Homo sapiens: one gene and its partners. The protein of the gene in region 3 interacts with the protein of the main gene of each other region in a pairwise test. Each region holds a gene or a part of one and is shown on either strand. Other genes may lie near its edges.

Region 1 (3,593 bases), on a different chromosome or scaffold from region 3:
GAAGCTCCTGTCATGTGCCCAGTGACTACTGTGGCCGAGGCATGGGGTGGGGGGCCAGGGGCCACTGACGGCAGCAACTGGGGGTGAAGCAGCCCCCCGCCCAGGGCTGCAGTCCCTCAGGCCAGCCCGTAGCCCGTCCTGGGCTGGCCCACTCCCTGGTCATGGGAGTGGTCTCAGCGGTGGGGAGGGTGCTGGGCCGGTCTTGCCCCAGGCTGACGCAGGGTCTGGTCCGTCCACAGGTGCTGCCTCCTGCACCCTGCAGGGGCCACAGTTCGGGAGCCACGGATGACCCTGGACACTCAAGCCAAAGTTAGGCCACACCAGGCCCAACCCTGTGCTGGTCAAGCCAGGGCAGTCACAGCTGCTTGGGGCCCACAGCACTGCTGCCTGGTCTCCACAGTAGCCTCCCTGCCCGGGTCCCAGCACCCTGGATGCCCGTCTCTGTCCCAGGCGGGATGGGGCACAGTGCAGGACACAGCCATGTACACCAAGAAGAGAGTACCAAGTAGTCTTTTGTTCAGCTTTTACTGGAAACTGCTGTCTAGGACCACCTGCCCTAACCAGGAATAAAGGCAAGACAGCCTGGAGACCAGTTTGTTTCTTCAGCTGCAAACAGCTGCCTGGGCAGGCAGGTGACACAAGGCCTCTGTCCCCAGGGATGGGACCTGCAGGGTCTGTTCACCCAGGGCACCCACAGTCCTGAAGTGCAGGCCCAGGGTCTGTCCAGCTGGGAGAGGGCAGAGGTGGCGGCTGGGTGAGTTGCCGGCCTCAGCTGGGGGCCTGGGGGAGGCCCTTCTTCAGCAGAGATGTGAGGAAGCTCCCCAGCTCCTCGTCCTAGGGCAGAGGCAAAAGCATTGTGGGTGGTGCAGGACAGGGAGGAATGTTGATACCTGTGTTGACCGCGGTGGGGTGGGGGTCACCCCTTACCTGGTAGGTCCAGGAGACCAGCAGCACCTTGGTGCCTGGGTCCTCAGAAGGGGCGGCGGCCTGGAGGAGGACGGACTCCACAGTCACAGAGCCGTCTGGGAGGTGCTGCACACAGTGGTCCTTCAGGACGCTGTGGGGAGGCTCGGTGAGACCCTGCCTGGCCTCCAGGGCCCAAGGGAGTGGGGGGGGGGCGGGGCCGGGCGCCCACCTCTTGAGGTGGCTGTAGACGCGCAATGCCGTCTCCTGCTCCTTGCGTGTGTCATGCAGGTGCACGCGGCAGGTGAAGCGCAGCTGGTGCTCAGCCAGACCCAGCTCTTTGAGGGCTTGCTCTGAGGACACCAGCCGGAAGTTCTGTGGGGCAGGGACAGGTCAGTGAGCGCAGCAGCGGCCCTCCCCCCTCCAGAGACCGTCCTGGCACTCACGCTGTCCTTCATGATCAGGGTGCCGTGCAGGAGCCGAGGCTTCTTGGCCTCAGGGAGCAGCCCTGCGGAGGAGGTGGCAGGAGCCATCAATGTGAGGGCCGCTCCCAGCCGCCTGCCCCGAGCACCCTGCCCTGCCCTGCCCAGCCCGCATACCCTGCGCCATCTCCCGCTTCAGCAGCCCCAGCGAGATGCCTACGGGGATGCTGGGGCTTGTGGGCAGCGTCACCGTCTCGCCATTGGCCGGCATGTAGCAGTTGACCCCTGGACCCCGGGGGAAGAGAGAGCCTCAGCCCAGGCTGCCCGTGCTGACCCGAGGTGGGCCCCACGCCGCCCGCCCGGCTGCCTACGGAGCTCCTGCTCGATCTTCTGCTTCAGGAACTCCATCTTCTTGGCCTCGCCATGCACCAGCAGCACGCTCTCCGGCTCTGCCTGGCCCACCAGCTGCATGATGCCCTTGGCGTCCGCGTGTGCGCTGAATGACATGTACTCCACCTGCATCTTGACCTCCAGCTACAGAGGCCACGGGGCGTGGACAGTGGTTACCACCAGGAGGTGCCCCTCGGCCCTGCCAGCCCAGTGCGGGGTCGAGACTCACCACCTGCCGCCCCTCCATCTCGAGCTTCCGCTGCCCGCTGAGGATCTTGTGGCCGACGGTGCCCTGCACGCAGTAGCCGGGCATGATGACCTGGGGGCAGGCACAGAGCTCACAGCCAGGGAACTCCAGCCTTGGCACCTCAAGGCCTTGCCCGGGATGCCCCCGCCTGAACCCCTGGAAGCTGTTTCCACCTGCCAGCGGCGCCCGACCAAGCCTAGCTGCAGACTCCAAAGGGCTCAGGTTTTGGCACAAGACTGTCCAGGGCTGGGCTGGGGCTGTTCTGCCCGAGGTGGACAAGCTGTGTCACAGAGACTGAGCAGCTCCAGGCGGACATCGCCCCCGTTCCCCAGCAGCAGCAGCCACGTCCCTTGGCCAGCACGAGGCCAAGCCAGTGAGAGCTCAGAGACAGCATGGGTGGAAGGACAACCCGTCGGCCTCCAGCTTCCAGATTCCCACACCTCACCATGCCCTCACCATGTTCTTTTCGTTTCCGGCCCATTTCCGGAAGATCTGCAGGGACTGCCCAGCGTGCAGCATTCCTGGCGTGGCAAACACAACCTACAGGACACACAGGGCCAGGTGGGGGGTCAGGGCAGCAGATGCCCCCACCCCCACTGCAGGCCCAAGCCCAGACACCTGCGGAAGACAGGAGACCGACGGGTGTGGATGTGCTGGCCGGCCCTGCCGCGGGCCTCACCATCGGTCCTGGGTTGTCAGCAAAAGCCCGGTCGAAGGCCTTGATGTGCTTGAACTCAAACATGTTCCTCTGCACGAAAGTCTTGCGGATCTTCTGGTTGGTCCAGGGGATGAACAGCTTGTAGTAGTGGTTGGCCTTCTCGGTCAGCCCCGTGGAGAAGTAGATGGGCACCTTCAGGTTCATGCGCTCCCTGGGGACCACCGGCCCAGTCAGCACAGTGGCCACAGGGGAGAATGCTGCAGGGCAGGACTCGGCCGGGTCACCCCCAACACCCGTGTCTGCACAGCCCACGCACGGGCCAGGTTGAGTCCAGTCGCGACCACTTGTCCCATTAAGCCCTGCAGCAGCCGGGCTCAGCGGAGAACCAGGAACCCCTACAAGAGCCGCACACGGTGGCGCTGACGGGATGTCACAGGCTTCCTGGGGTCACACAGCACACGAGCGGCCCCCCAGGACAGCAGCAAGCAGGGCCAAGATGCCACCGCTACGCTGGACAGGGCTGCCCACCAACTGGACTGTGTTCAGGCCGGGCCAGGGGCTCCTTAAAGAGCCGTCCTGGCGGCACCTACCAGAAGGTCTCCAGGAGGATGCAGAGCTCCTGGGCGCGGCCCAGCGCGAACACAGGTATCAGCACCTGAGGGGGACACAAGGCAGGAGCCCTGGGCACATGGCCCCTCGACACAGCAGGCAGCGTCCAGTGAGGGCACGGCCAGGTGCCCAAGAGCTGCGGCCTCATAGGGACCTTAGCCTCTCATCTGCTCCCAGTCCCGTCCCAGCCGCTCTCCAGAGACAGAAGGGAGCCGTATGAGAGACAGGAGGGAGCCGCATGAGAGACAGAAGGGAGCTGCATGAGAGACAGAAGGAGCCTGGCCAGGGCTTCGTCCGCACCTGAGGTAGGAGGGAAAAGGGGCTCCCTAGGAAAGGGTCTCTGAGTTTTCCTCCTCAATGTTGA
Region 2 (6,771 bases), on a different chromosome or scaffold from region 3:
AGTCTAGGTCTGTCTCCCCTCACCCTCAATGTTTCTTGAAGGCAGGATCTGGCCTGAATCTTTTCTCTGTCCCCAGAACTCAGCACAGGGCCTGGCATGGGGTGGGTGGCAGGAGGGGGCTTGAGTGAGAGTACCTGTGATCTTATAGTCAACTCTGAGCTCATCTTACACAGTGGTGCTCAGTGTGGCTATGTATCAGGATTGTTTAGGAACTTACAAGCACTAATAACAAGTATTCATGTTCCACCTCTGGATGTTTTAATCTGGCATGGGGCCTAGGCCTAGGAAACCTGTAGTTTAAACCTGTCTCCTGGCCAGGCCTGGTGGCTGACACCTATAATCCCAGAACTTTGGGAGGCTGAGGCGGGCAGGTTGCAAGGTCAGGAGTTCAAGACCTGCCTAGCCAACATGGTGAAACCCCATCTCTACTAAAAGTACAAAAATTAGCAAGACATGGTGTAATCTCAGATACTCAGGAGGCTGAGGCAGGAGAATGGCTTGAACTCAGGAGGCGGACGTGGTTGCAGTGAACCAAGATCACCCCACTGCACTCCAGCCTGGGCAACAGAGTAAGACTCCATCTCAAAAAAAAAAATTGTCTCCTGATGACTCTGATGTGCAGAATCACTAAGCCTAGAAGTGCCTGGGCCACCAAATTGTATAGATGTGGCACTGTTAGATCCTCAGTGGCTTGGAGAGGTTACCTAACTTGATCAGGGTCACTCAACTCATCAATGGCAGGTCTGGGACTCCCAGCCCATCGTTCTGAGGTATTTTCCATGCCCAAACTAGGATGCAAGTTTGTTTAAAGTGGGGATGTCAAAAACTAGGATTTAACAGACTGTAAACCTAATAACACAACAGCTCAGCTAAGGGGAGTCATTTGCATGTGACCCCCTGATTGGTCAACACTGGTTGTACCCACAAAGTAGCTGGGCCTCTGGAGAGGGAGAGGCAGGTTCAAACCCTCAGGTTCTGCCCATGGGTCTCTGGGCTGTCCCTATTTGTTGCCAGGTGACTTATAGGAGTTTACTTCTGGGCCTCCCAGACGTGGAGAGTAAAAACAGGTGCCCTCGAGGGATATGGGGTGCTCCACCCTCTCCAGGGCCTCCCAAGGCCACTGGCTCACTGTGTAGCAGCAGGGCAAGGTGGAGGCTGTGGACCTCAACTTCCCCACCAATAAAATTGGACCTGAGAGCTTAGATCCCTCCAACCCCTTTTGGGCCTGGAGCCTGGATCTTGGCACTGCCTACCAGAAATCCCTATTGGATCACTGATGGGGAGGGAGCACCGTAGAGTTCACTGACTTACGACATTGCTTGTCTGAGCCTCTTGCATTGTCTTGGGACTATATGTTTTCCCTGACTTGAAACTGAACTCAGAGTTGGGCAACCTTAGTTCCAGTCTGGCCCTGTATTTGATTCACTGGAATGAATTCAATAAACATTTATTAGGTACCTGCCATGTTCCAGTCAGATCTGATTAGACCCAGTCTCTGCCCTCAAAGGCATCTCCAAGTCTGATGGGAGAGACACAGGGAAACAACGTGAAGACAGCATGATCGGTGCTGTGATGCAGGGACATCCAAGGGCTGTGAGTGTCCAGATGGGACCCCAACAGAACCTGAGGTTCAGGGAGAGTGATGCTTGAGTTGAGTCTGAAAGACAGGTTGAATGAGGTGAGAAGCATATCCCTAGCAAAGGAAAATGGCATGGAGATTTGAAATCACAAGGTGTGCTTGGAGACCTTCCCCTTACCACCAAACTTCTTGAAAGAGATGTCATGACATGGGGATTGCATCCTTCACCTCTCAGCCTTTCTTCAACCCTCCATAGCTTGGCTTTTCCTACTCAGCAACTCCTCTGAAAAGTTTTTTCAAGGTCACTCACAACTTCCAAGTTGCTAAAACCAGTGGCCTATTATCTTGGAATTGGCCAAAAGAATGGGCAGAAGAACACATTTAGAAGATAAAATCACGAGACCTGGTGGCTGATGTGTGGAAAGCAGATGTGTGAAGACAAGGGCAACAACCTGCTTTCTTTCCTTCTTTCTTTTTCTTTCTTTCTTTCTTTTTTTGAGACAGGATCTCCCTCTGTTGCCCAGGCTGGAGTGCAGTGGTGCAAACACTGCTCACTGCAGCCTCGATCTCCTGGGCTCAAGTGATCCTTCTGCCTCAGTTTCCCAAATAGCTGGGCCCACGGGCATGCATCACCACACTCAGCTAATTTTTTAATTTTTTGTAGAGACAGGTTCTTGCCATGTTGCCCAGACTGGTCTTGAACTCCTGCATTCAAGCAATCCTCCCGCCTCAGCCTCCCAAAGTGCTGGGATTACAGGCATAAGCCGCTGTGCCTAGCCTTTCTTGATTTGAGTGCATGGTGATGGCATGTACTGAGAGAAGCATTTATGGGGCTGGGTACTTTGGGAGGCCAAGGCGGGCAGATCACCTGAGGTCAGGAGTTCAAGACCAGCCTGGCGAACATGGTGAAACCCTGTCTCTACTAAAAATACAGAAAAATTAGCCAGGCGTGGTGGCAGGAACCTGTAATCTCAGTTACCTGGGAGGCTGAGGCAGGAGAATCGCTTGAACCCGGGAGGCGGAGGTTGCAGTGAGCTGATACCATGCCATTGCACTCCAGCCTGGACAACAAGAATGAAACTCTGTCTCAAAAAAAAAAAAAAGATTTATGGGAAAAGCAACAGTTTTAGCAGATGGAGAAATGTTGCAATCATCTTGAGATGAGTGGAGTTTGAGACACCTGGACTTCTAAGGGGAGCTGGACTGTTCAGGTGTGAATCCCAGTTAGAGAGAGATACAGGGTGGAATGGGGCTAAGAGGAAAGATCCAGAAGAGAAGGGGATCCTGACCCCTCTCCAGGTCTGCTCCCCCATGGGTAAAATGAGGGGTTTGGAGTTTCCATTTAATTCAGCACATAGTTCTTGGTTCCTGGTATGCACTTGGCCCTGCTGGTGACACAAACAAATCAGAGTCCTTGTCTACAAGCAGCTCACATTTGGGCTGCAAGAAAGGCCAGGAGAAAGGATAGCAACAAGAGGCACAAGCAAGATCCACAGAATTCAGGGAAAAAAAAAATTCTTCCTGAGACCAGGAGAGCTTCCTGGAGTGGAGTGGGTGACCGTTGAGCTAGGCTTTGAAGGGTTGGCAGAAATCTAATGGGAGAGAGGGGAGGGCAGGGAATGCATTCCAGAGAGAACACTGACCATTCTCTGAGCCTCAGTCCCCAACCCTATGGTCATGTGGAGCTAATACCTGCTTTAAGGATTAGAGGTGGTGTAACACACGTGATCACTTCCTTCAGGACCTGGTACATAGTAGGTGCTCAATAATCGTTACAGCCTAGTGCAGCCTAACAATTTTGGGTCAATGATGGACCACATATACAAAGGTGGTTCCATAAGATTATAATGGAGCTGAAAATTTCCTATCACCTAGTGATGTTGTAGCCATGATAATGTCGTAGGGCAATGCATTACATTTTCTACATTTATATATGATTAGTTAGATAACAAATACCATTGTGTTACAATTGCCTACAGTATTCAGGGCAGTAGCCTGCTGAACAGGTTTGTTGGCTTGGAGCAATAGGATATACCATATACTCTAGGTGTGTGCCACCTAGGTTTGTTTGTAAGTACACTCTATGATATTCACATAACTAAAATTGCCTAAGGACGCATTTCTCAGACTGTATCCCTGTTGTTTAAAAGACGCATAACTGTATTTTAGTTACTTCTCATCCCTATCCTTCCTTTCCCTTCCTTCCTCCCCAACCCCTGTTTATTTCCTGGGCCTGGGGCTTGGCCATGTTCCCCTCCTTGTGACTAGTAGAGCTGGGTCTTTCAAGTGGCATTATTGTAGAGCTGCTAGCAAATATTAGACTACCTATAAGGAGAAATTGGGAGCCATAGAGAATTTTTTGAGCTAGGTGGGAGGCCAGAGTTGGAGAATGGGTGTCACTGGGAGCTGGATGTAGGGCAGAAGTTTTAGAGGACCGTGGACCTTGTGGGGAGGGCAGGGCCTTTCTCCAAGAGCTTGCTAGTGGCTGGAGGCCCATTTCTAAACTTGGGGAGGTGGCTCCATGGATCCCAGAGAGGCCTGTGCCAGGCGTGGGGGTAGGGGACCAAATCCGGGCCAGGGAGTTCCTGGGCACCTGACATGGTTGGATTCCCCAGGTGCGCGTCTACAGCCCGTACCAAGACTACTACGAGGTGGTGCCCCCCAATGCACACGAGGCCACGTATGTCCGCAGCTACTACGGACCGCCCTACGCAGGTAAGTCTCCAGCGTGCCCCGGGGCTTGCCTCGATCCAGCACCGATTCAGCGCCAGGCCCAGCCCACGGTCCGTAAGTCCGGACCAGGCTTCATCCTTTTAGCGTGCACGGATTTTCCCAGGCAGAACTCTCCGCAAGCCCCTCTCCATCCTGAGACTGGGAGAGCTCTGGAACCAGCGTTCGTCTCGAGCTGACCTCACCCTTCTGGGATGGCTCCTCAGCCCTGCGGTCGGCAATACCCATTCCTGAGCCGGTAGCGGCCCCTGGTGGCTACTGCGGGAATGCTGCCTCCTCCCCGCTCTGGGGCCTGGCGGTTGGGAATGCCCATCGTTAGGCGCCTGGTGGTTGTGCTTAGCGATCTCAGGGTTTCCTCGCTGCTCCGCCCTAGCCTGCCGTAGCGGACCCGTAGGTTCCGGGACATCCGTAGCCGATCCAAGGCCTGGGAGCCGTAGGGTGGAGCTCTTCCCGCGTCTAGATCTGTTCTTTGACTGGGGAGCAGGAGAGTGGGTTCGGCGCCTTACACTGGGTTGGGCTGGAGTGATGCAGGAAGGGTACGAAGATCACTCTACTCCCTCCTAAGTCGCTGATCCTCATGGGCTGTCTCCCTCTGCAGGCCCTGGCGTGACGCACGTGATAGTGCGGGAGGATCCCTGCTACAGCGCCGGCGCCCCTCTGGCCATGGGCATGCTTGCGGGAGCCGCCACTGGGGCGGCGCTGGGCTCGCTCATGTGGTCGCCCTGCTGGTTCTGAGCCCTGGGACTCGGAGCACTGACCCCTGCGCTTGGATTGCTAGACTCCTCTTCCTCCTGGACCCCATCCTCTACCATCCAAGCCCTGTCCCACTTTGGCCCTATCCTCTCCATTAGCTCCTTCCGGGTTTGGACCATTCCCCCCACTCCCTACCCTTAATCCCCACATGGGAAGAAGCTATCATCACAGGTACAAACATCGCTTGAAGTCTTCACATCTACCACTAGACACCCCCAAAATCTGTTATAGACATTTATGGATACATTTCCTCTAAACACAACAGGGCACAGCAAATACGACTTCATTTGGCTTCGAGTTCCCCAGGCGCTGTAGACACAACATGAATCGGGCTCTCTGCTCTCTCCTTAGGGAGCTCGAGTCCTGGTGGGGAGAACAGGAGTAAACAAGGACTTGACAAAGCTGAAGAGTTATCAGTCCTTTGACAAGGACAGGTGGGGCAGGGAGCAAGACAGGTAGGCTGGAAGAACAGTTATTGGCAAGTATGCAGAGCCGTGAACGTCATGGCATGTCCAAGGAATTAAATGGGAGTTCATTTGGGCTGGGGTGGAGGCTGGGATCAGACCGTGGTGGGCCTTCAAGCTAAGGAGCTTCCTAGGTGAAAGGGGAGATGTGAGCCTTCTCTGGAGGGAAGTTTCATGATTGCATCTATAATGAATATATTGCCTGTTTTGTGAATACTGACACATGTCCATACCTAAAACACTCCTGAGTCAAGTCCCATCCTTCCCACAAACAGCTTCCTGGCTGGTACCCATGATAACAATTGAGCTGAACCTGGGGACCCCTGGTTGGGGAACAGGTGAGTTCTATTTGAGACTTCCAGCCCTAGAAAGCTGCCTCCGTCCAGAAATGCCTCTCACACCAGGAGCTCGGCCCTCTCTTTGTAGCTGTGACTGTCACCCTCTCAGGCTTTGTCTCATCCTTCATTCTGAATAAGATGGCAGTGTTCTCCTCTGGGGCCTGATCCACCTCTACACCAGCCCAGGAAGCCCCATCTGTGCCTGCCCTCAGGTGGTCCACCAGTCTCCCCCTTTGGTTCCCTTCCAGTCTCTTCCCCCTTTCTATCCCAATCACCAATAGAAATGCTAACATCCCTGCCTGGTAGCCAGACTAGCCCACTAAAGCTCCCCTGTAAATGGGGGCTCCATTAGTTCTGCTGCCGAGACTAATAAAGATTTGGTTGGCTCTAGCAGTAACTGTGGCTTGCTTTGTTCCCCCAGAAGGCCCTGTTTCCCTCTCCATGATCCAGCAGCTACTAGTGCCTTCACTGGTCTAGTGAAAAAGAGTGTGGATTCTGAGATCAGTTGGAACTGGTGACAGCATATTAGCTGAGTCATTTGGGGCAAGTCACTTAACCTTTCTGGATTTTGTTTTCCCTACACTTAAGGTAGCTGGTTGAAGTTGACCATTCCTGAGGGCTCAAGAGGAGGGACTGCCTTGGAGTCTCTGTTGTCTGAGCTGATGGATGATCCAAGCCAGGTCCTGCCTGCTTTCTGAGAATCCTGTTCATGTTGGAGTCTTTTCCAGTAGGTTCCCATCCTTCTAGAGTTGAATCAATGAATTGTTCTCATAGAAAACCAGGTGGTCAGGAAAGGAAACACCATCATCCTGCATCAGGCTTCTTGGGGCTGTCAGATAGAAACTCCCTGTTCAAACTGATTTAAGCCAAAGGGAAAAGGTTAAGCCACATAACTGAGAAGTCCAAG
Region 3 (7,032 bases):
GCTGGTCTCGAACTCCTGACCACCTCGGCCTCCCAAAGTGCTGGGATTACAGGCATGAGCCACCACACCCAGCCCAGCATCCCCTTTTTATCCCAGTTGTTCATTGACTGCTTTTTTCCCAAAGGGGAGAGGGAGGGAAGGTGGGGTTACTTGTAGCTCTCCTCCAACAAGATCTAAATCAGGCAGGCAGCCCCAGCAGCCTGGTGGGGTGGTCTTGGGAGAACAGGTAAGGTTAGTGTGTGTCTTTCAGGCTACCCAGTGTGTTGGTAGGATTTCCCCTTCCTAGCTCAGTAATTGGAAGGATGGGTTTAAAGTGGTGATTGCACATCACTTTGTTAGAGGGGATTGGTAGTGTTGGGGTAGGTAGGCTGCCTGGTTAGGCGGCCTTCACTGCCCCTGAACGAAGCCACACATGAGCTGGGTTTTACTGGTCTCTGAGCCCCTTTGTGCTGGTGCAGGACTGAGCCTGGCGCTTGGATGCCTGGTGGCCTCCTCCAGCCGGCCCCAGGCTCCACCAGTGAATGGCAGCGTCAACGTCTCATTTAAATAATGGTAGTACAGGGAATAGCTTTTAAATGGTTATCGTAAAACATATGATTAACGTCTGTGGACTGTTTACTTTTCCTCTGCGAACATTCTTTCAAGTGTGCAAATGGCTCGATGTAGGGTCCAAGCCCAGCTAATCTGTTTGGTTTTTGTAATAGAGAGAAAGCAATGTCTGCATGAAAATGTCACCCAGGGAGACTTAATTTACAGATTAAAAGCTTCCTGAATGAATTTTTTAAAAAATGAAGTCGTTTTCGTCCACGAACATGCAGCCCGTTCCCTCCATTACTCTGTTTTAATTCTGTGGTATTGTGCCTTTTGCCTCCCACTTCAATGGCATACATCAATTCCTCTCTGTCAGAGTGGACTACAGGATGTGCTCCTGTGGAACTGGCAGATGTGCGGTGGCACGTACTTGCAGAATCCGCTCATGTGTGCCTTGTGAAGCTCTTAGCCCCTGCGACGCACGCGGTGCCCATTCAGCAGGTGGGCTTAATCCCCACAGACGACTCTGTCCTCTAGCGGATGAAGTTCCAGAATGGAGTACACAAGCCTCCAACACCTCCTTGTCTGTTCAGCTCTGACTCTGCCTTAGATAAGATGCCAGATGGCATTTGATCAGTTTCTCCAGCTCATCCAAATAGAGGCAGAGACATTTTAGAGGAGTCACCATTTTTGAAAAAAGGCAAGGGTAGTAACTTTTCAAATGCCACAGCTCAAAAAGTGTGTTAGAAATCAGAGGAGTAGCTCTTGTGCAGGTAAGGCATGAAACTCCGCAGGGTGAAGGGCCAGAGTTGTAAGAGCAACAGGGATTACCATTGCTTCATTCTCCACCAGGTGCTGAGCCTTTTTGATGTTGTTTCTTTTAAACTTGAAACAATCACACCAGTCACATGAGGCACAAATACCCAAGATGGCATATCTTGAGTCTACTCAGTATACCAGTCCATTTAGAAGGAGATAAACTAATTTTTCAAACTGAGGCTGAGGGAAAATGAGATGAAACCTACCAACAACTCAGGATTTATAATCATGAATGAACCTTGTGCTAGGATTCCAGAAGAGATGCGTCTCTTCCTCCTTTCCCTGTTCCCATCCCCTAATGGATTGCTCTTTCCTTCTCTCCCTCCTTTGTACCTAAAATGCTGCTTCTTCCCTCAGGAATCCCACGGCCTCCGCACCCTCCAGATATATCCCCGTATTACCCACTATCGCCTGGCACCGTAGGACAAATCCCCCATCCGCTAGGATGGTTAGTACCACAGTAAGGAGTTCCATTTTTTAATTTCCTTTTTGTTTCTTACATGGGCATGTTTATTATTTATTCTGTGTGTGTGTCTGTGTGTGTGTGTGTGTGTGTGTGTGTGTGTGTGTGTATGTGTGTGTGTTAGAAGCCAGGGTTGGGGAGGGGGCTGCGGGAGGGCACAGAAAAGGTGTTGCTGAGGTGTCCTGTGGGAATACAGGCAAATCCACAGCCATTCAGGTGGCTTATGTTACTGGCACTTAGCATTCCGCGACCATGGTCCCCAGAGGCTCTGTGGACAGAGGTGCCCTGCAGTTCCTTTGGGAATTGCAGAAGACTACTGGAACTTCCACCCAATGAAGCTGGTCATGACCCTTCTGCTGTTGGCTGCCCAAACTGCAGTCATGTCATTGGGTTGAGGCTGTCGAGTCCTCCATTTTAGGTGTTACATATTTTGGGGCACAGAAGCAGGAACAAGAACGGCCTTGTTTTGAAATCCAGGGTTGGGATTAGGGCATGTTCTTGTATGATTCCAGGACCCCCCACCTCATCCTGAACATTACTCCCAAGGTTGACAACAACAGTGGAAAGTTTTGTCTGTTGAGAAGCTCCATGGGACTGAATCAGCATCTCTCTGAGAGTCTTTGCACGTTGAATGTTTTACCTAACTGTGAACGGTGGGAATGGGGCATTTGGAACCGTCACTGCAGCATGTGGGGCCTTCGTAAGCATCAATCCTAGCTCCTGGCAGTGCCCAGATTATTTGACTAACTTTTGCAACTTAAAAAAACTGTGTTTTAAATTCAGAGTAGAAAGGCCTTTGATGCATTAGCATACTGTGGCAGGTTGTGTGTATGTATATTTTTGCATGAGCATGTGTGTAATATGTGTTTCGTGATTGTTTCTGTGGATGTATTTCTCCTTACCAGTGATCTGTACTCTGAACAACACAGGACAATACATTGAATGCTAAAAGGAATAAATCCTGGTAAAACTCAGGTTTGAGTCTTAGGGAAGATGGCCTTTCAAAGCCTTAAGGAAGATAAAATTTTGGAGTGGCTTACCCCACAATTCTACCCGTATTTCTCTAGTTAGATAGATTCTATGCTGTTTTTTTTTTTTTTAATAAAAAACAGATTGCATTATGTAGTAGCTGTACCAAATACCAACCCTGGGTATAGTTTCTGTTTCTCTGTCTCTTCTTATTTTTATTGGGACGGTAGACATGAACATGAGCTTGTGACCCATTTCTTCTAAATAGATGGGGCCAACCCTCGAATAGTTCTCAGTGATCATTTGCCCCATTCGGCTGATGGGGAGATATTTGAAGGCTAGATAAAAAGGAATAGCCAACTCAGACAACCCTCTGTCAGAAAAAGTTGTGTGTCTTTCATGAGGATGCTATTTTGCATGTTGCTGTATTTTTTAATTATTGTAATGAGGTGTGATTGTCTATTGGTTACCCACAATTCTTCTTGGGGACTCTCCCCCCGGTAACTCTTGTCAACACTTGTTAATTTGACAAAAGGCTACAAATTAAGCTCTGTTAATTTAATGTTTTCTCACCGAGATCTAAATACCGAAAGAGGCCCAAAGCGCAACTGAAGTCCTTTGATTCACTGTACTTTATTTTGGTATAAATTTACATTCATTATTGTTTTCCTTTGGATGTGTAGCCCTCAATTAGTGTGATGGCTCCATTAAAGCAAGCGAGACTTCGCCTTTAATTATTACAACAAAACACCTAGTTTCAGCTTGGGGAGAGGGTCTCTATTGACATAAGCAGAGGTTATAAAATTTAATTAGCCATTCCTATCAGATTTATGGCATTCAAATTGTTCTGTGTTTCTTCCCTTTGATCCTTCCTGTACAATCCCCAAGATTTTTGTTCTGATCAAATGAGAATAAAGCTTACTGTGCAGAGAGAACTTTTCCCTTTTCTTCTTTTTCTTGTCCCCACCCCCACCCTTGTTTCAAGTCTCTTACTTTGTACCCCTTCTTTGTAGGCAAGGTCAACCAGTGTACCCAATCACGACAGGAGGATTCAGACACCCCTACCCCACAGCTCTGACCGTCAATGCTTCCATGTCCAGGTGAGTTCCAAGAACCGGGGCCTTCATCCAAGGCCATGTGTGACTTCTCAAGAAGTTCTCTAGATGGCCACCAAGCCACCCAGGGACCACAGCTACATGTAGTTCTATTAGTGTAAAGCCAATGTGGCATTAGGCTGTACTCCCAGAAAATCCTGAAAAATTGCCCTGAAATTCCAAGGTAAATGATGTCTTTCTGGGTAAAATTTTTGAGTCACTCAGTTGAACAATGTATTTTAATGAATTAAGAAGGTAAGGGAGAAACAGGACAGAAGCTTTTAAAAATGCCATTTCTCTGTTGTCCTGTCCTCAGCAAGAAAGGTAGCGGTGAAGGTAGTTTTATTATTATACCAAGAAGAGTTCGAAAAAAGATTACTGGTGTTCTCAAAGCTCAGACTCTGATTGCAAGTCAACAAGAAAGCATCCGCCTCCTCCCCTCGAAGGTAGCACTGTCCAATAGAAATATAGTGTGAGCCACAGAGGGAATTTTAAATTTCGTAGTAGCCGTGTTTTTAAAAAAGTTTTTGTTTTTTTTTTTTTAAAAAAAAGATAAAGTTATTTTTAATGACATGTTTTTATTCAATGCAATATAGCCAAAATATTATCATTTTAACATGCTATTCCTGGACAACAACTATTAATAAGATGTTATGTTCTTTTTTGTGCTGAGCTTTGGTACAAAATCTGATGTGTATCTTATACGCACAGCACTTCTCAGTTTAGACTGGCCACATTTCAAATATTCAATAGCCACACGTGGCTGGTGCATATCATAGTGGTCTGTGCAGCTCTAAGTCTTTGAAAGTTAAAAAAAAACATGTGTGTGTGTGCTGTACATTCATATATATTTATATTTCAGCGTAGAAACATATTTACAAGATACATTCCTATCCCCATGTTCTTCTTTTCCTCCCTCTGATTAATTCTGGCTAATTTTTCAGTGACTGCTAGTTTATTTACAAACTGGTTGGCAGCAGTATGTTTTAGTCGCTAATTGTTTCTAATGATAGTTTTATTTTCTGTTCATCTGATTTTCAGTCAAGTTAATTAAATCGGTGGAGGTTTAGACTTTGCTGATGGTCTGAAATCACCAACCCATTCTGATGATGGCACATAATGAAATTAGCATGCGTTACATGGCAGGGGTGCTGTCCCCAGCTTCTTTCCCCAGTCCCTGTGGCCAACATGGGAAGCCAAGACCAGAGAAGGGCCTGGAAAGACAGGTCAAGATGCTGCTTTTCCTACTTACAAAACAGTAACTTTAGCAGTGATAGAGAGTTACATTCATTAAGAAAAACAAACCGTGGCATATCTAGCATCGGTAACTATGCCGTGGATATCATAGTTGAAGAGATCCATTTTCTACCTGCGATATATCATCAAAATTTCAAAATCCATGCCAGTATTAGTTAGGTAGGAAAACGCTCGTGTGTTCTCTGGCCTAGAGAGAAGAGGAGGCGTAACACTTATTAAATAGTGTCATCACAGCCTCGCAAAGCATGGGAATGAGTAGGGGGTCTCCCAGGTGGAGAGCACCCAGGGACCACGGCTACATGTCATTCTATTAGTGTAGCAGCTTATACTCCACAGCTCATCTTCCCACCTTCCCAGCATTTGTATATTACACCTGGTTATTTTTCATGTTTGTTTATTTGGTGCGTTCTGGAGGTTAACAGTGGTAAAGTAATTGTAGGATAGGGATTGGGGTTAAGCTGATCGATTGAATTATCATTAGGAGGTTAGTCGATGAATTATAGGTGGGCATGGGGGTGGAGGAAAGGCAGGGAACGTCAGGAAGAAAGGTTAGGGCCTCAAGGTGCGGGGAGAGGCGGCCGACTCCCCAGGTAGGCCAAATGAAAGATAGCTAGTTAAAAAGCATATACAGCAAATTAAATACATTATTGTGATAATGGGGCGACAGAAGTATAGGTCTATTATACTTATGGCAGTTATAGCAAATGTAGGCAGCTTGCCCTGTTCCAGAACACCCTTTGATATTCATTCTATTCAGCAGTGGGGCCAGGACTTCTCAGAATTAAGTGATGGGTCATTATACTTTAAACACCATGGAGAAGCCTAGATTGGCAATTAAACAGCTCTTGCTGACACTCACTTGTGCCACCCTGTGACCCCCTTTAGATTGAGATGTTGGAGCTCCGGGCCCTCAGCCTGCTAAATTGGTGCAAGGCTCTTCTCCTGACGAGAGCCGGCTCTGAAATCTGCCGGCTTCAAAGGGAGCGAGATCATGTATAAACCATAATGTGGGTGCACCGTGGCTCACAAAAAATAAGGCAGGAAGAGATGAAATGTTACAAGTGCAAGGGGGAAAATGAGAGAATAATGACAAACCTAATGCAACTCAAAGCAGGATTGTTGCACAGGAAAATGCATCCTACTGCTTGTGCATAAAATCAAGGCCGGCAGATGACATCCGGTTAACAGAAACGTGTCAACAGTGAAGTAAAGTGAGAGTGAGTAAGAGAGAAGCCCCTGAGACAGCCAGAAACAAAAATTAGTTGTTCTTAACAAGTTAAGGTTCATCATTATATTCTGGCTTGGAGCCATGAAAGCAGACGGGGGTATATAATGAGCTGCTTAGAATTTTTAGGGTGTTTATTGCATTTCATGAAATAGTAGTCTGCAGAAAGGAATTTCTTAAGCGAAGGTATGTGTATACAGCCCACATCCATGTTCACACATGGTCTCTTTCTTTGCTGAACATTTTTCAGATATGGGAATATACGCGTAGGTATGGGAACTTAGAAATGTGCCTTCTTCATGGCTGCATTAGAAGTTTGTCTGCACCCCAAAATGTACTCAGATTGTGGTGCCTTCCCGTGGTATTTGGTGTATGTACACACACGTACACACACACACTCACACATGCAGTGTTTTTCTCTCTCCCCCTCCCTCTCCCTCTCACGTCTGTACACATATTCTCATTCTGCAGGAAGGGAACATATGTATTTGAGGAATGTCAGGCCTTCAAAATTCACAGTAAAAGCTGCCACCCACCACTTCACCCAAGGGCTTCCAAGAACACATGTTCTTAACTTCTGTTTCCTCTGAGGCCTTCGAGCAGTGGGAAGGAACAGGGTGTCACTTGGAGCCCAAGTGTCTCCCAAGGGGTTTTGCTTTTTTTGTTTTTCACAT
Region 4 (7,971 bases), on a different chromosome or scaffold from region 3:
AATCCACCATCTCCTGCCAGCATTTTTTGTGAGACCAGGTGTGCTTAACCGGGAAAGAGGGGGTGGCATGAACGGTTTCAGGAGTTGGTAAACCCTAGAAACTGGGAGAAAATTGTCTTTTTCTGGCAAGAGACCATAACTTTCCTCACCTCCTCAAAGCGATCTGTAATATCCTACAGGATTACAAATTGCTGTTTTTAGACAGAGCTGCATCTGGAGACCTGTTTTTCGGGATTCTAAGGCCCCTCTTTCAACCTCCTTCCCTGCTGCCCCTGCCATTGCCAATGCTGAAATGGCGAGGCCTCCCTTCCACTTACCTCGCCCACTGCGGCCCACGAAGCGAAGGTCGTTGAACCTGGCCACCTGGTTCTTCATGACGGCCGAGGCATTGCGCAGCTCAGCGGAGTAGTTCTCGTCATTGCCTGCCATCACAGTCACCACCGTACCATCCGGCACGTCCCCCAATGCCACCACCTGAAGACACGGGGCGGGGGGATGCAGGGGGACAGCTTAGAAAGGAAGAGGGTGACCAGGGAAAGGAGGGGAGGGGCTGGGCTGGGCAGCTCCCCCAGGTCCCAGGCACACTGAGTATTTCTCCAATGCAGGGTGGAGAAGAGGCTTAAAAACAATAAAGACCTTCCCCCAAATATCACGAAAACAAGAAGATGGAATCTCGAGCTTCCACACCAAAATCCTAGATCAACTGCTTACATAAACTGTGTCCCAAGAAATCATCCTTTCAATGAAATCTAAGCCAGAGCTGTGAATCAGCTCAGTCACTATGATGTGGGGTGCAGTTCCCCTGTTGTCTTCGGCTGCAGCGAAAGAGGAATCAACATGCTCCTAGCAACGAAGTCTCCAAATGAGAAAGAGTAACAACAATAATAACAACAGGGCTGCTACCCCCACTCAATTTATGCAAGAGCTGTTTAGGGCATGAAATTTGGCCCTGAAATGTGGACCAGGCCCAGTTTATTGGCCTCTGCAGAGCCTAAATTCGTTATGCAGAGAAAATGCAGAATGCAAAACTCACTGGTGTTTTGAAAAAGGCCACCAGAAAACCCCTTTAAAGTGAGAGTGGGGCTTTTGATAATGGAAGGATGCACCTGCCGGGAATTGCAGGATGGGGGTGGCGATGTCCCCCTAAACACCATCTCCCCCAAATCCCCCACCCCCAGGAGCACGGAGAGGCGGATGCCTTTTGAAAAAGAATCAGACTTTAAACAGAGTCACAACTATTTAAACGTGGCCGCCGCGTGCAGGGACTGGGGATCCATATGGTAAAAATTTCAAGGAGAAAATGTTTGGGATCTGATTAAGAAGACCAGATTTCCTGTCAACATCCTGTCTTCTTTTAATTTCAAAGACTCCTTTTAAGCTCCAAGTGACAGTAAAACCTCCGATCTGACGATTAAAGTCACACGGGCCTCCCGCCCCTCCCGGCGAGATTTCCCCCACTGGTATTTTAAGATGTCACCCGGGAGACCTCAAAGAGCCACTCTTCCTTTTTTTCCCATTTAGAGTCGTCTTAATGGGAGCAGGGACGGCCTCAGCTTCCAGCCACCTCGGGCAGCACCACCCCCAGCCGCCGGCCCTTCCTGCCCTGCCCTTTTCTCACGGCAGCTGTGAGAGGTTTAGGGGAAAACCGAGGCGTTTTCGTTTCATCTCGCTGCCCCCTTAAAAAAATGAAAATGAAACAGTCGCCTACTCCCTGGCATAAAGAAAAAGGTCCTCTAAATGGCTGGGGGCTGCCAGGGTTAGGGGTCCCCCAATCTCAACTCGCCATTCGGGACGCATAATATCCCCGAGCAAACGTCTGGAGAGCAGTGCCCCGATCCCGGCCTAGCGCCGTCCGGTAAAATTTCGGAAGCCCGAGGGTGTGAGCAGGAAGCTTTTGCGAAGCGGCGCGGGAGGAGGGGTGCTGGAGGCGGAGGGTAGGCCCTTTCACCGTTCGCACCCCACCCGCGGTGTCCTTGCCCCTGTCCCGGGATCCTCTTCTCCGTTACCCGCAGGGCTGTATCTGAGCGATCCGGGTTAGGGGGGCGCAAAACCCCATCCGCCCATTTCCGCACCAACGTCTCTACGCAAGGCGCCCCAAAACCCAGGTGGAGCGGGGCAACCCCGTTAAAAGTCATTCCTGCAGGGCGCATCCAAAACGGAACGCCGAGGTCCCGGAGCCGAGCGCGCAGCCAGACTGAACCGGGTGCCCGGGTGTCGCCGCGGCGTCTCGGGCACCTCCCATCCCCACTGCTCCCGAGGCTCTGGCTCCCGCAGCTCAGACGCCCGGAGCCCCAGGGCCGGCGCCCTCCCGCCCCGGGTCCCGCACTCACCTTGAAGGCGACGGGCAGCGTCTTGTTGCAGCGCCAGTGCGAGGGCAGCACGGAGCAGAGGAAGTTGGGGCTGTCGGTGCGCACGAGCTCGCCTGCGTGGTCCGCCAGCACGTCCACCATCGAGCGCACCTCGGGCCGGGCGCGCCCTCCGGGCCCCACGGCCGCCTGCGCGCTCAGCGCGCCGCTGTTCTCGCCCATCTTGCCGCCGCCGCCGCCGCAGGGGAAGGCCGGGGAGGGAGGTGTGAAGCGGCGGCTGGTGCTTGGGTCTACGGGAATACGCATAACAGCGGCCGTCAGGGCGCCGGGCAGGCGGAGACGGCGCGGCTTCCCCCGGGGGCGGCCGGCGCGGGCGCCTCCTCGGCCGCCGCTGCCGCGAGAAGCGGGAAAGCAGAAGCGGCGGGGCCCGGGCCTCAGGGCGCAGGGGGCGGCGCCCGGCCACTACTCGCCAGGGCCCGCCCGCTGCGAGGCCTCGCTGGCCCGACGGCCGCCCGCAGCCTGCCCGGCTAGTCCCGCATCCTCGGCGCGCGGCCCCGCGTGCGGCCGCCCCTCGTGGCTGTCCCGGCTGCCTGGGCCGCGGCGGGGCCCGCGCGGGGCTGTGCCGCTGCCGCCGCCTCCCGCCCCGAAGCTCGCCCGCGGCCGCCCCGACTCCGCGGCCGCAGCCCCAGAACAAATCCTCCAGAATCAAGTGGCGGGGCCGCGGCCGCCCGCGCGGGGTTAGTACCCCCGGGGCCCGCGGGGCGGGGCTGGCGGAGCGACGCGTCGCACAGCCAATCGGCGGAGCCCCCATCGCGGGCACCTCGGTGGCGTTCGCGGGGAGGAACGGGGCCTGCCGGAGGCCGCCCAACGGGGAGGGGCGGAAGGCGCCACCCCGCGGAGGAGGCCCCAGTGCCACAGCCCAGGGCCCCCGAGAGCTCTGGGAGCCCGGGGCAAATGCTAGAAATTTGCTTAGAACGTCCGGGTCCCACGGAAGGCGCCCTTGCCGCCCTCTCTCGGGTCGTAGCTCCCTGACGCTGGGGCGCAACCCCTTCGCTCCTCCTCCCCGCTGGCCGCGGCCGGGCTTCCCCAGCTCTTGCTGCTTCGGGCCTGTGACTTCTGCAACCCCGGGCTGGGGGCCGCGGGGTCTCAGGGCCGGTGACGCCGCACTGGGAGCCGCCCCAAAGAGGTTACTCACCTCCCTCGTCCCGCACATTATTCTGACCCAAGAGCCTCCACCCCACACGGGATTTTGCGCGTCGTCCACGCCCGGCCGGCGGCCTTTGCTGCTCCCAGCCCTGCGCGGCTTTGGTCCCAGCCTCGGTGGCCCCTGTGCCAAACCGGGGACAGGCGGAAGGGAGTCTCCTAGGGACCCTAAGTAGCCTGGGGCCAACAACCCCTTTCCTCTCTGCTCTCCCCTCAAAACAAGTTTCAGGATCTTGCAGGCCTCGCGGCGTCGTTCTTCGTTGTGGCGGCCTGTGGCTCTTTGAAAAACACGACGAGGCCTGCAAAATGCGTTTTTCTTTTTTTCCTTTACGCATGTAACCACGGTCCTGCATCGTGAAACGGTACGCGCGTCGGTGGCAAAAGAAAAACAGCAGTGGCTGCAAAGCTAAGGGCCCTCGCTTTCAGAGGAGAGAATTTTCTTTCTCCATGCGGGTGGAAAGTGGCCTCTGCGGGTCCAACCCCACTTCTTCTTGGGCCCGTGCGCTCCGGCTGCGCCGCAGGGACCGCGGACAGCTTCGCCAAGGCACTGCCTGCCCGCCCGGCTCCGGGTCCCCGCTCCCACTCCCAGCCGCGTGGCCCAACCTCTCCTGGGCTTCACTGCAAATCACCCCTTCCTCTCCCGCCTCCTAAGTCTGTCGAGCAGACCTAGGGGCCGGCTACAGTTGGGAGGGCAACGGGAAAGATCAAGCCACAATCATTCCGAATTATCGCCCCAGACACCTCCCTAGACTCTGGGGAACGAACGCGTGCTGAGCCTCCCCGCCGCTTTGGAGACGGGGCTAGATTTTCGTTGCCTCCGGCTCTCGACAGGTGCAAAACAATGAATTCCAAGCCTCGGAAGCAAAGAAGCTTAGGATCCGACGGTGGCCGCAAGATCTCATCATGGATCTGACCCCTGCTCAGCGCGCGCCATTTCGTCGTTGCCAAACGAAATCAAGCCCCGCGTGCGCTCCAGGGGCGAAGGACTCTGGACTCACCCCGACCACCGGGAGAGCTGGCCCCTACCCACCTCGGGACCTCACAGCACGCCCTCAGGCCGTGTCGAAAGGAAGGACGGCAAAGGTCCCTTACTGAACCTTTTAAGAGAGCCTGCGCCTGGCAGTTGTCGATTGCGGACCCAGGCCCGCGCGCCCTCGGACGCGCTGGCACGAGCAGCAGAACTAGAGGAAAGCGAGTGATCCAGCCTGGGCGCTCCCACCTCCGGGAACGTCTCCGAGAAGGCGCAGCGCGTCGTGGCCAGGTAGGGCCCTGGCCGGGGGCGGGCAACACGTGCTGCCCTCGAGCAGGTTGCGGGACCATGACCCGCTGTTTCAGGTGGTGGTAAATTCCATTTGTCGAATGGTTTCGGTTTGCACCGTGCCCTTTGCTTGTTCCTCCGCCTGATTTCTCCCTCTCCGCTTACGATGGGTTCACAGACAAGTTTCCAGAGAATGAGGGACTCTTGTGGGCCCTGGCACCTGGCGCAGGGCCCGGCACGGCTCCGGCTCTCCGTAGGGCGCTGGCTCCCCGTGGGCACCAGATCCAAGGGACCAGGGCGGCGGGGGGAGGGGGGGCGGGTGCAGGCCCTTGGGTCCCCAGACCAAGGTCGCGGGGCCGCCTGGCAGGCACAGTGGCGGGAGCCGCCGCTAGTTGGCGCCCGCGCCCTGCCAGCCGCGGAGGTGCGGGCCCGGCCGGGCTACAGATGCGCGCCAGCTGCGGCCCCGGGTGCAGGCGCGGCGACCGCCCCCGAGGAGCTGCCCTTTCCTTGCCATCCATGCGGCCAGGTCTCAGACAAACCGATGGCTTTGTGTCAAACCAAGGCCGCCTTCCTCACCTCTGATAAGATGGACGCCTTCTGTCTTCGCGTTTTCAGGCACCCGGGGAAGACCCACAGAACAGGCTAGCTTGTTCCCAATTTCCACCTGCTTCCTCCCCATCCCGGACCGACAAAAATTGTCGTCTGTTTGATGGGAGGGAGAACTCCGACTCCCCCACCTGGGGCATGCAGACACCCTCGCCCTTCCCCAGTTGGCATGGACCGTCGTCTTTTCTCCCTCTTCCATCAGATCGATGGACAAACAGGCCAGTTTCTCCCCAGTGGCCCCCACCTAAGAGCACCCTAAGTTGTCCACAGCAGGGCTAGGAAGCAGAAGGTCAGGACACTCCCCTACCCTACCTTGACTTAGAGCTGGGTAAACCCAGAACCCATCCCCGGGCAAATAGAGCCAGCTCCTTTGCCCCAGGAAGGGGATTCGTCTCCCTCTGGCATTTAGGAGTGCTCTCTAAGTGCGTTCTTGGCAGTGAGGGTGCCGCCTTCCCAGGGCAGGTGTGATTCATGTGGACTCTGTGGCGCCTGGGCAGGGATCCCCAGGTATACCAGACAAGGGGCAGGTGTGCCCTGGGAAACCGCCTAAGAGGTCCATGGGCTATGGAAGGAGCTGGGGTCCACAGTCCCTCTGCCTGAGCGTGTCTTTTTCCCTCACCCACAGCGCTCTAGGGAAAGTTGCCTAAACCTCTCTGAGCCTCATTTCTTTCATTTGTAAAGTGGGGCACTCATAGTGGCCCTTCATAGAATTGTGTGTAAAGTGCTTAGCACAGGCCTGGCACATGGAGGGTGCTCCAGCCTCCGGGAGCCATCACTGTCATGAAAAAATAAGACCTCTCAATCCTTGCTGGGGGCCTTTGACCCACCCCTCCTCTCTCTGGGCCTCACACTTCCATCTGTGAAATGTCCAGTTCTCATATTCAAAGCTTACTAGGACTCCAAGCCAGTCCATGCTGTCCTGATCCCTCAATTCGCCCACAGGCTGCCTGGGGGAGGTAAGGACTGGCTGTGACCTACCTCCACGTGGAGTCAGCTCATAGCGGGGTTTCCAGCAACCATCACAGGGCGGCCAGAGCTGGGTCTCGATGATTGCCTGTCTGACCATTCCTCTCAGAACCTCACTTTCGCCCCCAGCCGGCCGCCCTCCTGTGGGCAGACCCTTTCCTGAGTAGCAACTGGGCCTCAGCGGACACTGCCAGGGACCCCGTTTCCTTCCCAGGAGGCCTCTGTTCCCCATATCCCGAATCACACAGGAGCCTAGTCCAGCGAAGAGAGCAGAGGACTCTCTTCTAGAACTGAAAATTTCTCCCAGCCTGGCCCTAAATCCCCTGTCCAGAGGGACCCGTGGTGAAACCTATCTCCTGCCCAGTGCCCTAGAACTCAAAGGGGACATTCATGCCCCTCACTGAGCCTCAATTTCCTCTTCTGTCAATGGAGGTCATTCTAACCACTCCATTTCACGGGAGGGGGATTAAGGATTCCCTCTAGGAGGGGAGGGGCATCATTGTGATTGATGATCGATTGTTTGAAGAAACAGAAAGAAAATGCTGCTGAGTAAACTAGGACTCATCTGCATCCTGATTTCAGATAATGATCTCTGAATATATAAGCGAGAAATGTTAATGAAAAATGGCAATATATCTGGGTTGAGGGGTTGTCTCCTGTAGGCCGGGGGTCCAGCTCCAGAGAGTCCAGCTCTGGGGTCATCTATCCTGGGCAGCCTCTCTGGAAGGATTCAGAATGTGTGGGAGCACAAATGTGCTTCTCAAATTACAGAGATCTTTCTTCCTTTTTGGAAAGTTCCAGACTTGGAGGGGAGGGAGAAGGAGCAAGGGAGAGCAGGGTGGTGAGGGTGTTAGGACCCAGATGCTGCCTGTGCGGTCTGAGACTTTTGCCTGGTGTCCACGCTCCCCTGAGCCTTGGTCCCCGAGGGTAAAATGGGAAGAACAGTAACAGCTGGGGGTGCTGAGGCTTTACCTTGTGCCAGGCGCCGCACATGGGCATTGCTCATGGTATTCAATCCCCACGGCGTCATATGTGGTAGGTGTTATGCCCATGTAAGCAAAGAGGAACGTTGTCCGAGGTCAGCCAGGCTAGAGAGGGCCAGACCCGGGTTAAAAGTCTGCTCTGGTTCAAAATGTGGGGCATGAACGCATCACCTGGCCAAGCATGTCAGCACTCTCCTCCTAGTGGCTGAGTAATGGGAAGAGCTAGCATCTAGATACAGAGGAAAGAGCTATTGTGATGGGGAGAGGGAGCTGGGTTTGGTAAATCCTGCTAAGCAGCCCTGGGCTTGGAAATCAGTAAACTCTTCAAATCTGCAGGGAGTCAGGAAGGACTTGCCAGGGTCATTCGGGAGGGTCCTGTGATAGTCAAGGTGCACCCACCACCTGCTCTCCTTTGGCCTCAGAACCAGTCTGCGAGGAGGCAGGACTGGCAGTAGTCCCCAGTTTACAGATGGGAACACTGAGGCCCAGAAAGGGGAAAGGGCGTGATCAGGATCTGGAATGAGCTCCAGCAAGGCCAGGAGCAAGCACCTCGAGGCAAAACGCAGTTGGACAGGACCTTTGCCTTGCAGGAGACTGCAGCCCAGTCCTGGGCCTCATACACTAGCACCCTGATGCCACATTCAGTGCC

Evidence for each region.
Region 1: the proteins of TCF7L2 (region 3) and INTS11 interact in binary tests that used the Homo sapiens proteins (3 or more experiments, as listed by UniProt).
Region 2: the proteins of TCF7L2 (region 3) and PLEKHB1 interact in binary tests that used the Homo sapiens proteins (3 or more experiments, as listed by UniProt).
Region 4: the proteins of TCF7L2 (region 3) and RUNX3 interact in binary tests that used the Homo sapiens proteins (3 or more experiments, as listed by UniProt).

The regions. Positions count from the first base shown.
Region 1 is NC_000001.11:1,311,091-1,314,683, forward strand, and holds the end of INTS11 (integrator complex subunit 11), read right to left. Parts: intron 3,276-3,593; coding exon 3,211-3,275; intron 2,832-3,210; coding exon 2,642-2,831; intron 2,503-2,641; coding exon 2,419-2,502; intron 2,035-2,418; coding exon 1,945-2,034; intron 1,860-1,944; coding exon 1,697-1,859; intron 1,611-1,696; coding exon 1,503-1,610; intron 1,477-1,502; exon of another isoform or gene 1,412-1,476; coding exon 1,350-1,411; intron 1,279-1,349; coding exon 1,136-1,278; intron 1,058-1,135; coding exon 928-1,057; intron 835-927; coding exon 769-834; 3' UTR 571-768; downstream 1-570. Other genes in the region: PUSL1 (tRNA pseudouridine synthase-like 1), read left to right, coding at 240-570.
Region 2 is NC_000011.10:73,656,559-73,663,329, forward strand, and holds the end of PLEKHB1 (pleckstrin homology domain-containing family B member 1), read left to right. Parts: intron 1-4,194; coding exon 4,195-4,294; intron 4,295-4,907; coding exon 4,908-5,044; 3' UTR 5,045-6,261; downstream 6,262-6,771.
Region 3 is NC_000010.11:113,142,216-113,149,247, forward strand, and holds part of TCF7L2 (transcription factor 7-like 2), read left to right. Parts: intron 1-1,707; coding exon 1,708-1,810; intron 1,811-3,795; coding exon 3,796-3,882; intron 3,883-7,032. UniProt on the Homo sapiens protein: Participates in the Wnt signaling pathway and modulates MYC expression by binding to its promoter in a sequence-specific manner. Acts as a repressor in the absence of CTNNB1, and as activator in its presence.
Region 4 is NC_000001.11:24,927,257-24,935,227, forward strand, and holds the start of RUNX3 (runt-related transcription factor 3), read right to left. Parts: upstream 3,021-7,971; 5' UTR 2,613-3,020; coding exon 2,331-2,612; intron 475-2,330; coding exon 318-474; intron 1-317. UniProt on the Homo sapiens protein: Forms the heterodimeric complex core-binding factor (CBF) with CBFB.